Linked DNA regions of Homo sapiens. The protein of the gene in region 2 purifies or fractionates together with the protein of the main gene of each other region. This does not show direct contact. Each region holds a gene or a part of one and is shown on either strand. Other genes may lie near its edges. The genes, in order: RNF123, ZNF277 and UBE2T.

Region 1 (3,750 bases), on a different chromosome or scaffold from region 2:
TGTGAAGAGCCCAGGGAATAACAAGTGCTGTCTGCATAGCACATAACCTGTCCGCTCTCAAAGGTGGCTGTGCTGATGATGTCTGGAAGAAGAAGGCTGGGAGAAATGCTGGTTCCCAAAGTGGTCAGTACCAAGGCCACCTAGTCCAACCCTTGCCCCTAGGCCTGTGGTTCCTTTGGGGCAGATTCCAGTCTCGCCACCACCCAGCCAGGGGAGTCTGTGTTGAATGGGACATGTTCTGGAAGTATGAAAGGCTCAGCCCTCTGAGCTGCTGGATGGCTCTGTCCTGTACCCGCCAGTCCATAAATGGTCAGCGGAGCACATGACCCACCTACCCGAGCCAAAGGAGTTGGGAAAAATCTGTCTGGGTGGCCCCCTCATCCTCTCAACACACAGGCCTAGAGGGAAAAGGGTACTGTCTAATGCCAGTCAGTGCTGTCCTGAGCTCAGCTGCTAAGAATAGCAGGGAGTGAGGTGGTGGTAACCAGCAGGACTCAGGCAGAACAGAGGCCCATTACACACCTGGCTGCCCACAGGGTGCCACCACCTGCTCTTCCACCTTTAATGCCAGTTCTTACCCCACTCATCCACACAGACAGAAAGCTCTGGAAGGGGACAAAGGTTGGACAAGCACCCTGACAAAGTAGCCACTACCCAGGCTCAGGGATCACATATTCCCCAGTGTAAGCCACTCCCAGCCCTGAGCTGTAGGAGCAGAGATGCACAAAGGCCCCTCCCCACTGCTGCTCTGTCCCAGGCCAAGGCCAGGTGGTGGCTATGCAGTCGGGGTGCTCAGCTAGTAGCATAGAAGGCTAAAGCCAACCCCATCTCTGAATACCCCAGTGGGCCCAAGGATAAAGGAGCCTTCCTCAAAAGCAGTTACAGGCCAAGCATGGTGGCTCACACCTGTAGTCTCAGCACTTTGGGAGGCTGAGGTGGGAGAATCACTTGAGCCCAGGGGTTTGAGACCAGCCTGGGTGACACAGTAAGACCCTGTCTCTTAAAAAAAAAAAATTAGCTGGGTGCTGTGGCATGTGCTTGTGGTCCCAGCTATGTGGGAGGCTGAGGTGGGAGGATTCCTTGAGCCTGGGACTTTGAGGTTGCAGTGAGCTATGACTGTGACATAGCGAGACCCTGTCTCAAAAGAAAACAGTTCTTAACAAGCCCACACTTGGAGCAGCTACTCTTGTACCTGACCCCAAAAGTCGTGTGCCTGATCCTGAGAGCAGACTGCACATATCTGTGGGCAGTCGGCCTGAGACAGCCACCACTGAGTGCCTACAGCACTGCCCATTTGGCCAAGACCAGCAACTTCCCTGACCTTTTTGGATCTCCTAGGTCCCAGTTCAGGGCCCTGAATACCCACAACCACTGACTGACAGCCCTACCACCTGCTGTCTCTCCTGGCGGCCACAGCAGCAGCAGCAGCAGTAGGACCATCTCTGGTATCACATGAGGTAGGGATCAGATGGCTCTGAGAACAGGCCAGGACTGAGTATGGGGTGGGGGTGGGCAGGAACTCTCTGCAAGCAGGCACTTTCTGACCACCACAGTTGCTTAAATAGAACAGGTAACGTTGCTGCCTTTTGGACCTGCCTAAAGGGCAGAAGTCGTAAAAGACAGAACAGCTAAGGCTGATGAGGGGGTGAGAGACAGGGACAACCGTGCCTCACTGCAGGGAGGGAGAACCTACTTGATCCTTTGAAGAAGTAATCTGGCAACAGTCTTAAAAGTGACTGCAGTTCAAACACTCTAGCCACACGACTCCAGCCCTGGGCATCCTCACAGCATTGTTTACAAAAGCAAAAGTCCTTCCAAACTAGGGCACTGGTATGGGCCACAGCAGACCCCCTGGCCCTAAAGATGCTCAGTAAGATAAATTGATAATGGGGAAAAATACTCACGGGATAACATTTGATGATAAAAATAGGATGCAAACTTCTATAGACTTTTGGAAGTGAGGGACATGTCCATTACCTTGATGGTAGTGATGGTTTCACGGGTTTTATATATATGTTAACACTTATCAAATTGTACACTTTAAGTATGTGTAGTTTATTGTATATTAATCATAGCTCAATAAAAACGTTTTAAGAAAAGAACTGAAGGTGATAAATTTTTTTAAAGTTTTCTATACAGCATAATCTGAACTACATACATTATAAGATAAACAGACATGAAGTTAAAAAGCTTCTGCATAGCAAAGTAAACGATCAACAAAGTGAAGAGACAGCCCACAAATGGGAGAAAATATTTGTAAACTACCCATCTGACAAGGGATTAATAACCAGAATATACAAAGAACGCAAACAACTCTATAGGAAAAAAACTAATAATTCCATCAAAAGATGGGCAAAAGATACGAACAGACATTTCTCAAAAGAAGACATACGAATGGTAAACAGGCATATGGAAAGGCATTCAACGTCACTGGTCATCAGAGAAATGCAAATCAAAACTACGAGATATCATCTCACACCAGCTAAAATGGCTTTTATCCAAAAGACAGGCAATAACAAATGCTGGCGAGGTTGTGGAACCCCTGTATGCTGTTAGTGGGAATGTAAATTATAATAGTGCAATCACTATCGAGAACAGTTTGGAGGTTCCTCAAAAAACTAAAAATTGGTCAGGTGCGGTGGCTCATGCCTGTAATCTCAGCACTTTGGGACGTCGAGGTGGGAGGATCACCTGAGGCTAGGAGTTCGAGACCAGCCTGGCCAACATGGCGAAACCCCATCTCTACTAAAAATACCAAAATTAACTGGGTGTGGTGGTTTGTGCCTGTAATCCCAGCTACTCGGGAGGCTGAGGCAGGAGAATTACTAGAACTTGGGAGGCAGAGGTTGCAGTGAGCCAAGATCATGCCACTGCACTCCAGGCTGGGCAACAAGAGCAAAACTCCATCTCAAAAAAAAAAAAAAAAAAAAAAAAAAGGCCAGGCACACTGGCTCACGCCTGTAATCCCAGCACTTTGGGAGGCCGAGGTGGGCGGATCACGAGCTCAGGAGATCAAGACCATCCTGGCTAACACGGTGAAACCCCGTCTCTACTAAAAATGCAAAAAATTAGCTGGGCATGGTGGCGGGCACCTGCAGTCCCAGCTACTTGGGAGGCTGAGGCAGAAGAATGGCATGAACCTGGGAGGCGGAGCTTGCAGTGAGCTGAGATTGTGCCCCTGCACTCCAGCCTGGGCAACAGAGCAAGACTCCGTCTCAAAAAAAAAAATTTTTCAAAAAAAAAAAAACTAAACTAAAAATTGAGCTACCATATGATCCAGCAACCCCACTGCTGGGTATATACCTGAAAGAAGGGAAATCAGTATATCAAAGAGATATCTGCATTCCCATGTTTGTTGCAGCACTGTTCACAATAGCCAAGATTTGGAAGCAATCTAAGTGTCCATCAACAGATGAATAAATAAAGAAAACATGGTACATATACACAACGGAGTACTATTCGGCCATAAAAAAGAATGAGATCCTGTAATATGCAACAACATGGATGGAACTGGAGGTCATTATGTTAAATGAAATAAGCCAGGCAGAAAAAGACAAACATTGCATGTTATCACTTATTTGTGACAGCTAAAAATTAAAACAATTGAACTCATAGAGGCAAAGTACTGGATGGTTACCAGAGGCTTGGAAGGGTAGTATAGGGCTTGTGGGGAGATGGGGATGGCTAATGCGTACAAAAAAATTGAATTAATGAGACCTATCTGGTAGCAGAACAGAGTGACTATAGTAA
Region 2 (3,750 bases):
ACCATATTGGCCAGGCTGGTCTCGAACTCCTGACCTTGTGATCCACTCGCCTCGGCCTCCCAAAGTGCTGGTATTACAGGGGTGAGCCACCGTGCCCGGCCATTTTTTAAAATAAGTTAGACTGTGAGATAAATTCACCAGTTTAGATCTTAAACTGGTAGCCCTCTGGAACTTTGAAAATCTAGGAAACCGTAATAGTCTGTTACCATCAGATAGCCCAATATATAACCAACCCAAAAATAAACCATTAGGGTGTTAAATTCAATATTTAACTCAGGAGACTACCAAAGATTTGTTTGGTAGAGGTACTAAAATAATTTCAGAGTAGGGAGTTCCACTGTTGGGAAGTGGGAAAAAACTGCACTTCAACTCTGTGCCGCTGAGGTAAATACTTAAGATGATATCAATTTAACTGTGAAAGCAAAAACAAATAAATCGAAAAACAAAGTCGCAACAGTCTGAGAACTATATTTAAGCCCCAAACCATGTTCATCAGAAAAAGACAACTTGTGCTAAATTACACATCAAGACAAAAATGGGGTGGGGGGAATGGGGGAGGGATAGACTAAAGGTAAAAGAGTCCTAAACACAATCCACCTGCAGCTTTCAAAATTTGGTTTTTTATTCCTACAGTGGATCAGAGGACAACCTGAAAGTCAGGTACAGCCAAAGTTGTGATGGTTTTCAAAACTCTTTTCAAATGTTCTTTGAAGCCACGAGTGCAAATTATCTATCACTTTCCTTTTCTTTCTCTAAGGACCCAGAGACTGGGAAGATCTCTCAGGCTCCACATACAAATCTGAAGAACACCCAGAGCAGTTAACCATCTACAGGGAGGTTGTGAGATACACACACTTTCCCTTCAGAGGTCACCTCAGCCACAAACTGGGCAAATCTGTAGAGTGGAGAGCAGTGACCACCAGTCTGCGACTGGAAATACTCCGGAAGCTAAATAAAACACACCTGCGAGGTCAAACCAAGCAAACCAAGGCAGTGTACTGGTGAGGAGAAAGAGCTGCTAATCCCAAAATTATAAACACACGCGCGCGAACCAGATCTGAACCAAACCCACTCAGCAGCTAGCTCAAAGCTGGGAGCTCCAAACCAGAAGACAAACGCTCAGGGAGCTTCCCCGGCGGAGGGGAAGGCCATTCCATGGCATTTTCTCCGCCATCCCATGGCATTTTCTCCGCCATCCCCGGGCAGCCCCAACCAAGTAGCCGCCACCGGCTCCAACCCATCCCGCTGGGCCACCACCCGTGGGGCCCAGTCGAACCCAGGTGGCCCCAGAGCTGAAGGGCTCCTAGGGTCAGACCAGAGGTCCGTTGCACACCCGGTCATAGAGAAAGGAAGACACATCAGCCGCGCCTCCGGGGCACCGTACTCACCCCCATAACCTACACCCCCGACTGTGCTGCAGCTCCCATCACGGTCTTCCTGCATTCGGGCGACAGCCCCCTGGGTCTTGGAAGCAGCCATTACCCGGCAGAAAAGAAAAGGGAGGGCCGCAGGGCGGGTCGGAGGCGGGGTGGCACCAGTAGAAACGCTACTGGAGGCGAACTCCCCGTCGACGTAATGTTTTCTCCACACCTACGCCGCGCTCTGGACCAATAGGACGCAATCAGTAAAACTGAATCCCCGCCCCGAACCACATTTGCCGCGCCCACTTCCGGGATGGGGAGGCCAAGAACTACAATTCCCAGCGTGCTGCGGGGCCCTGGGACGGGAGGGCTGGACTAGGCGCTGGCGGGCGGGGGTGCGCCGGAGAGTGCCCCGGCGTGTTCGCTTAGTTCAGTGAATCAGAACAATGACTGCGCCGCCGGGTACCCGGGAGCGCGTCGGAGGACTGTGAGCAGCCGCCGCCGGGAGAGCTGCGGGCGGCGCAGTGTCAACGCTGGGCTCGGGAGCCTCCAGCGCAGATCCTGCCCAGCGCCCGCAGCCCGCGCGAAGCCGCTGGGCTCCGGCACTGCAGCGCTGCTCGGGGACTGTGCATTGTTGTGAGCCGGAGAAGGGGCGCGGGGATTACAAAGCCTGAAGACCCCGGAGCCCCTTTAGCCATGTGGATACCTACGGAGCACGAGAAATACGGCGTGGGTGAGTCTCCGCGGGGCGAACTTTTATTCTGCTCTGGCCCGAGCGAGTGCGCATTTCTCGTCCTTGCCCCCGCGCCCCTCTCGCTCCGCCCGGTTGAAAATGCCTAATCCTGGCATCGCGCAGCTGGTACGGGGCTTTGCCGAGCCAGCTCCAGGCAGAGGGCTGCGCACCAGGCTCTCGCCCCGCACCGCCTGCTCGGCGCGCCCCGCACTGGTTCCCGAAGCGCCGGGACAGCTTGGGGGAGCGCGCGGCCGGCCCGCTAGCTTCGGGCTCTGCCTGCGGAGTTTGGAGTGGCGACTGGGCGTGTGTGTGTGTGTGTGTGTGTGTGTCAAGTTGGAAGAGGAGGCGAATGGGGTTTCTCTCCTTCCTTACCCTTCTTCCCCAAAGCGACAGGGAGCTGCAACGGTTCCTCTGGGTGGAGAGGGAGACAACAACACTCGGGCAGAGAGAACACCCCCAAAACAGTAGGGAGGCGCAAACCCTTCCCTCTGGCTCGGATCGACATTCCCGGAGTGTGGAATGTGGCAGGGTCCTGGAGAGAGCCGCTCTGACAAGCTGAGCCCTCTCTGACCCTCCTCCCTCTCTGCGATCCCGGATTTATGGGGTGTGTATGTTGCGGGGCGGGGGCATTGGTAAATTTCAACATCTGCGCCGCTCGGTTCTTTGGTCTTTGGAGAAGAACGGGTATTTCAGCAGTGTTTTTACTTCTGGCCACCCTCTCGACCCCGGGTGAGCGCAGTGGGGGCGGTGTGGCGGTACAGGGCTGCTGAGTGATAAATGGGGAGGGGGATCGGAAAGCCTGGTTCTTGGGGGCAGGGAGATAGCTTTTAGGAAAGCATACCCTGACACTGGCGTTCGGAGAAAAAGGAACAGGATAGCTCTCGCTGTTCTGTGTAAAGGTGAACAACAAAGGACATTAATGTTGACTGATGAATACAGGAGTCTCCCTTCCTTTTCCTCCTCCCATTTCAGGCGGGTTACAGTTCCCGTTTTTGTTGTTTGATTTCAGCTGGGTCGCCCCTTGACAGTTACTCCTTTTAGGGTTGAGACTATTAAGAAGCCAGGCTCTCCGACAAGGCTGCAGCCGGCCAAATGCAATTATAACCTCCCAGAAGGTCTAACAGAAAGCATTATGGATTTTACTAACACTCTTTATTTCCTATAATGCCCTGTTCTGCCGACTGGTGTACTTTGTGTGTGTGTGTGTGTGTGTGTGTGTTTTAAAATTGAGGACAGGTCTAGTGATTTAGGTGATGTGTAGATATCTGCTTATGTTCTAAATTCATTTTCCTGCAATTTAAAACATCTGGAAAGCCTTCCCAGGGAGTCGTAGTCCGAGGGGATTTTTGTTTTTTTTTTTCCCAACTTTGCCTGGGGATAGGACTTTGGGGTCCATTGAAAGGACTGTAGGATTCAACAAAATCATTCCCACATTTCACGTTAGCTTCCATTCTGGATTGTGACTAATTACCAAGACAATAGTTTGACCTGAACCCACCTTTGGGAAAGGTTTCCAGCTTTCCCTCCTTCAAAGTGTCAGAGGAGTCTTTGCCAGCCTCTTTACTGGCAAGGAGTAGATGTTAGTAGTTGTTATTTTCGTTCTCCTCACTCTTCTCTTTTTTGGGAGGTAGATTAACCCTTGCTAGGGAAAAAGAT
Region 3 (3,750 bases), on a different chromosome or scaffold from region 2:
CTCATGCAACACACCACAATGCTAATGTACTCAAAAAGTTAATGGTGTCAAACAAAGGACATATAGAAAATCTAAAGCAGAAGTTGCAAAATGCTGGCCACAAGACCAAATACAACCTATAGATTTGTTTTGTTTGGACCGCAGTATTCTAATCATGTATGTTTCCCATCTGGCCTCACAGATATTTGAGATGGTTATCTTTGATCTAAACACTGCTTCACTGCTTTAAATCTTGGCTATAAATCAGCATAAGGTATAATAAAAAGTCAAAGAAGCAAGAAATGTCAAGCAAACCTTTTATAAATGTAAACAAATTTGGGTAGAAAGATGGTAGGGCACTCTGACCTTATAACTGCTCCTTACTTTAGAAGAATACACAAAATGTTTTATTTCAGCACAATCTTCAATAGGGTCATGACTTTCATCATATACATGATTTGATACCTACGAGCTCGCAGGTCATCCATTTGGTCTTTATCTTGCCAACATGTGATGCCTGGGGGTGGCTCTGTGGCTAACATGTGCAGCTCTCTCTTCAGACGTGAAGCTCTCTGCATGATCCCCAAGTAGAAGGAACCACACACAGTTCACTGCTCCACACTAAGAGCTGCCTGGGATGCACTGGAGGAGAAAAGAGGTGACCATAAAATCATCAGCAATAATGACTATGAAGTTTTCAGCAAACAGCTTCAATGTAGTGAGGGTGGGGGACAGAGTCCTCTTTTTTGTTTTGAGACACAGTTTCACTCTGTCACCCAGACTGGAGGGCAGTGACACCATCTCAGCTCACTGCAATTTCCACCTTCTGGGTTTGAGCAATTCTCATGCCTCAGCCTCCAGAGTAGCTGGGATTACAGGCGTGCACCACCATGCCCAGCTCATTTTAGTATTTTTAGTAGAGACAGGGTTTCGCCATGTTGGCCAGGCTGGTCTCAAATGCCTGACCTCAGGTGATCCGCCTGCCTTGGCCTCCCAAAGTGCTGGGATTACAGGCGTGAGCCAATGCACCCAGCTTTTTTTTTTTTTTTTTTTTTTTTTTTTAGAGGCAGGGTCTTGCTCTGTCACCCAGGCTGGAGTGCAGTGGCACAATCTCAGCTCACTGCAATCTCCACCTGCTGGGCTTAAGTGATCCTCCCATCTCAGCCGCCTATGTAGCTGGAAGTACAGGTGTGTGCCACCACGCCAGTCCAAGATTCCTCTTATTAATCTCTATTCTGACAAGGGAATCTGAGTTTTTCCACTCCCTTCTTGTGAACGTTTATCTATACAAGCAAATATATTTTTAAAATAAAGAACTAAAAATGCAAAAAGTTCTACAAAAAATAAAAACACTAAAGGTTTTAAATAATGGGTGTTTCCACTGATAAATTATAAACTCATGAGGCCAGGCCTGGGTCTGATTTTGCTTACTATTGTAGCCTTAGCATGCCTGTCATAGTAAGGGATTTGACAAATATTTGCTGTTGTGAGGAAGTCTACATATGCTTTGTGAGAGCAAGAATGGTAGAGATAGTCAACATTCTCAGGTACAAACAAATGTTAAATGTCCGAGTTTCTCTCCATGTGCTATGGATTCCACCTTCTCCCAATCTTCAGGGATACCATTCCATCAATTATTCCATCTTTCTTACCCTCAATGTTCAAATATGCTCAAAGTCTCTCTCACCTAAAACCAACACCTACACACATATTCACCCAACACTCTTCTCAACTCTAGTTCTCTCTTTACTAACCAAGCAAAGGACACTAATCCCTTTTGTTTTTTAGACGGAGTCTCGGTCTGTTGCCCAGGCTGGAGTGCAGTGGTGCGATCTCGGCTCACTGCAACCTCAGCCTTCCGGGTTCAAGCAATTCTCTGCCTCAGCCTCCCGAGCAGCTGGCATTACAGACGCCCGCCACCACGCCCGGCTACTTTTTGTATTTTTAGTAGAGATGGGGTTTCACCATCTTGGCCAGGCTGGTCTTGAACTCCTGACCTCGTGATCCACCCACCTCAGCCTCCCAAAGTGCTAGGATTACAGGCGTGAGCCACCGCGCCCAGCCAACACCAATCCTTTAATGTGTTACAAATATCCCCCAGTTTGTGCTTATCTTTCCATGTTGTACATGGTGTCTTTCAATAAACACATACTCTTAACATAATCAATCTTAAAATCTCTTTCTTTACATTTATACTTTGTGTATTAAATTTTTCCTTACCCCCAAATGTAGAGATATTCCTACATAGCCTTCAAATATTTTATAATTTTGCTATTCAAATTTAAATATTGAATCCACTAGGAATTGAATTTTATGTATAGTGAGTGAGGTGGGGGTCCAATTTAAAGTTTTTCCCCATATGAATAGTCAATTGTTCTAACATCATTTACTGAATCAGTCCATCCTTTCCCTGCTGATATTACTATAAATTAAATTTCTATATGTGTGGATTTGTTTTGGGACTCTTGAATTTGTTCCACTGGTCAAGTGGATTATTTCTGAGACAATACTCCACTGTTTGAATTACTATAGCTTATTCATTTTTTATTATTTAAATTTTTTCCCAGCTTTACTGAGGTATAACTGGCAAATACAAATTGTATATATTTAAGGTGTACAATGTGATGTTTTACTATAGCTTATCCACCTGGTCTTTTTCTTCAGGAATGACTTGATTATTCTTGACTCTTTGCTCTTCCATATAAATTTGAGAATCAGTTCATAAGTCCATAAATATATACATAAATATGTATATCTGAAATTATAATCCAAATCATAACAGGGTTCTGTGGTTTGGATTGTAATTTTATTGATGCTATAGATCAATTTGGAGATAACTGATATCTTTATGATATTGAATCCTAAGATCCATGAACACGCTGTTTCAGTCTTTTTTTTGATGCTTTCCAAAGGTTTTATAATTTTCTCTATAAAGCTTTATCTAATTTTTGTTAGACTGATTTCTAAGTATTTATATTTTTGCTATCTTTTCAAAAACACTATTTTCTACCCATTTCTTACTGATACATGTAAATCTAATTGATTTTTTTTTATTTTTTTGAGATGGAGTTTTGCTCTTGTTGCCCAGGCTGGAGTGCAATGGTGTGCTCTTGGCTCACCGCAATCTCCACCTCCTGGGTTCAAGCGATTCTCCTGTCTCAGCCTCCTGAGTAGCTGGCGTTACAGGCATGCACCATTAGGCCCAGGTAATATTGTATTTTTTTAGTAAAGACAGGGTTTCTCCATGTTAGTGAGGCTGGTCTCGAACCACGGACCTCAGGTAATCCACCCATCTCAGCCTCTCAAAGTGCTGGGATTACAGGCATGAGCCACCTCGCCCAGCCAATCTAACTGATTTTTAACCAAAGCCTTAGTAATGCTAATGATGAATCTATTTGGGGTGGGGAGCAGTCTGGGAATGGTAATTCCACACTGCCAATCATGTCATCCACATATAATCAAGTTTATTTCTTCCCTTCTAATTCTTTTCCTGCCTTCTATTCTGACAGTAACTTCTAGTACAATGTTAAATGAAAAAGCTGATAGCTGGGCCAAGCATGCTGGCATGAGCCTGTAATCCCAGCTACTCAGGAGGCTAAGGTGGGAGGATGACCTGAGCCCGGGGAGACTGAGGCTGTAGTGAGCCATGATTGTGCCACTGCACTCCAGCCTGGGAGGCAGAGTGAGACCCTGTCTAAACAACAGCCAAAAAAAAAAAAGAAAAAAGAAAGAAAGAAAAGCTGATAGTTGGCATTCTTGTCAGATTTCTAA

Evidence for each region.
Region 1: the proteins of ZNF277 (region 2) and RNF123 purify together in Homo sapiens (affinity purification with mass spectrometry; 3 studies listed by BioGRID and IntAct, with this or other methods). This does not show direct contact.
Region 3: the proteins of ZNF277 (region 2) and UBE2T purify together in Homo sapiens (affinity purification with mass spectrometry; 3 studies listed by BioGRID and IntAct, with this or other methods). This does not show direct contact.

The regions. Positions count from the first base shown.
Region 1 is NC_000003.12:49,692,534-49,696,283, reverse strand, and holds part of RNF123 (E3 ubiquitin-protein ligase RNF123), read right to left. Parts: intron 1-3,750. UniProt on the Homo sapiens protein: Catalytic subunit of the KPC complex that acts as E3 ubiquitin-protein ligase. Promotes the ubiquitination and proteasome-mediated degradation of CDKN1B which is the cyclin-dependent kinase inhibitor at the G0-G1 transition of the cell cycle.
Region 2 is NC_000007.14:112,204,446-112,208,195, reverse strand, and holds the start of ZNF277 (zinc finger protein 277), read right to left. Parts: upstream 1,502-3,750; 5' UTR 1,480-1,501; coding exon 1,389-1,479; intron 1-1,388. Other genes in the region: DOCK4 (dedicator of cytokinesis protein 4), read left to right, coding at 2,694-2,823. UniProt on the Homo sapiens protein: Probable transcription factor. Involved in modulation of cellular senescence; represses transcription of the tumor suppressor gene INK4A/ARF, perhaps acting via the Polycomb group (PcG) complex PRC1.
Region 3 is NC_000001.11:202,335,198-202,338,947, forward strand, and holds part of UBE2T (ubiquitin-conjugating enzyme E2 T), read right to left. Parts: intron 622-3,750; 5' UTR 558-621; coding exon 449-557; coding exon of another isoform or gene 445-448; intron 1-444. UniProt on the Homo sapiens protein: Accepts ubiquitin from the E1 complex and catalyzes its covalent attachment to other proteins. Catalyzes monoubiquitination. Involved in mitomycin-C (MMC)-induced DNA repair.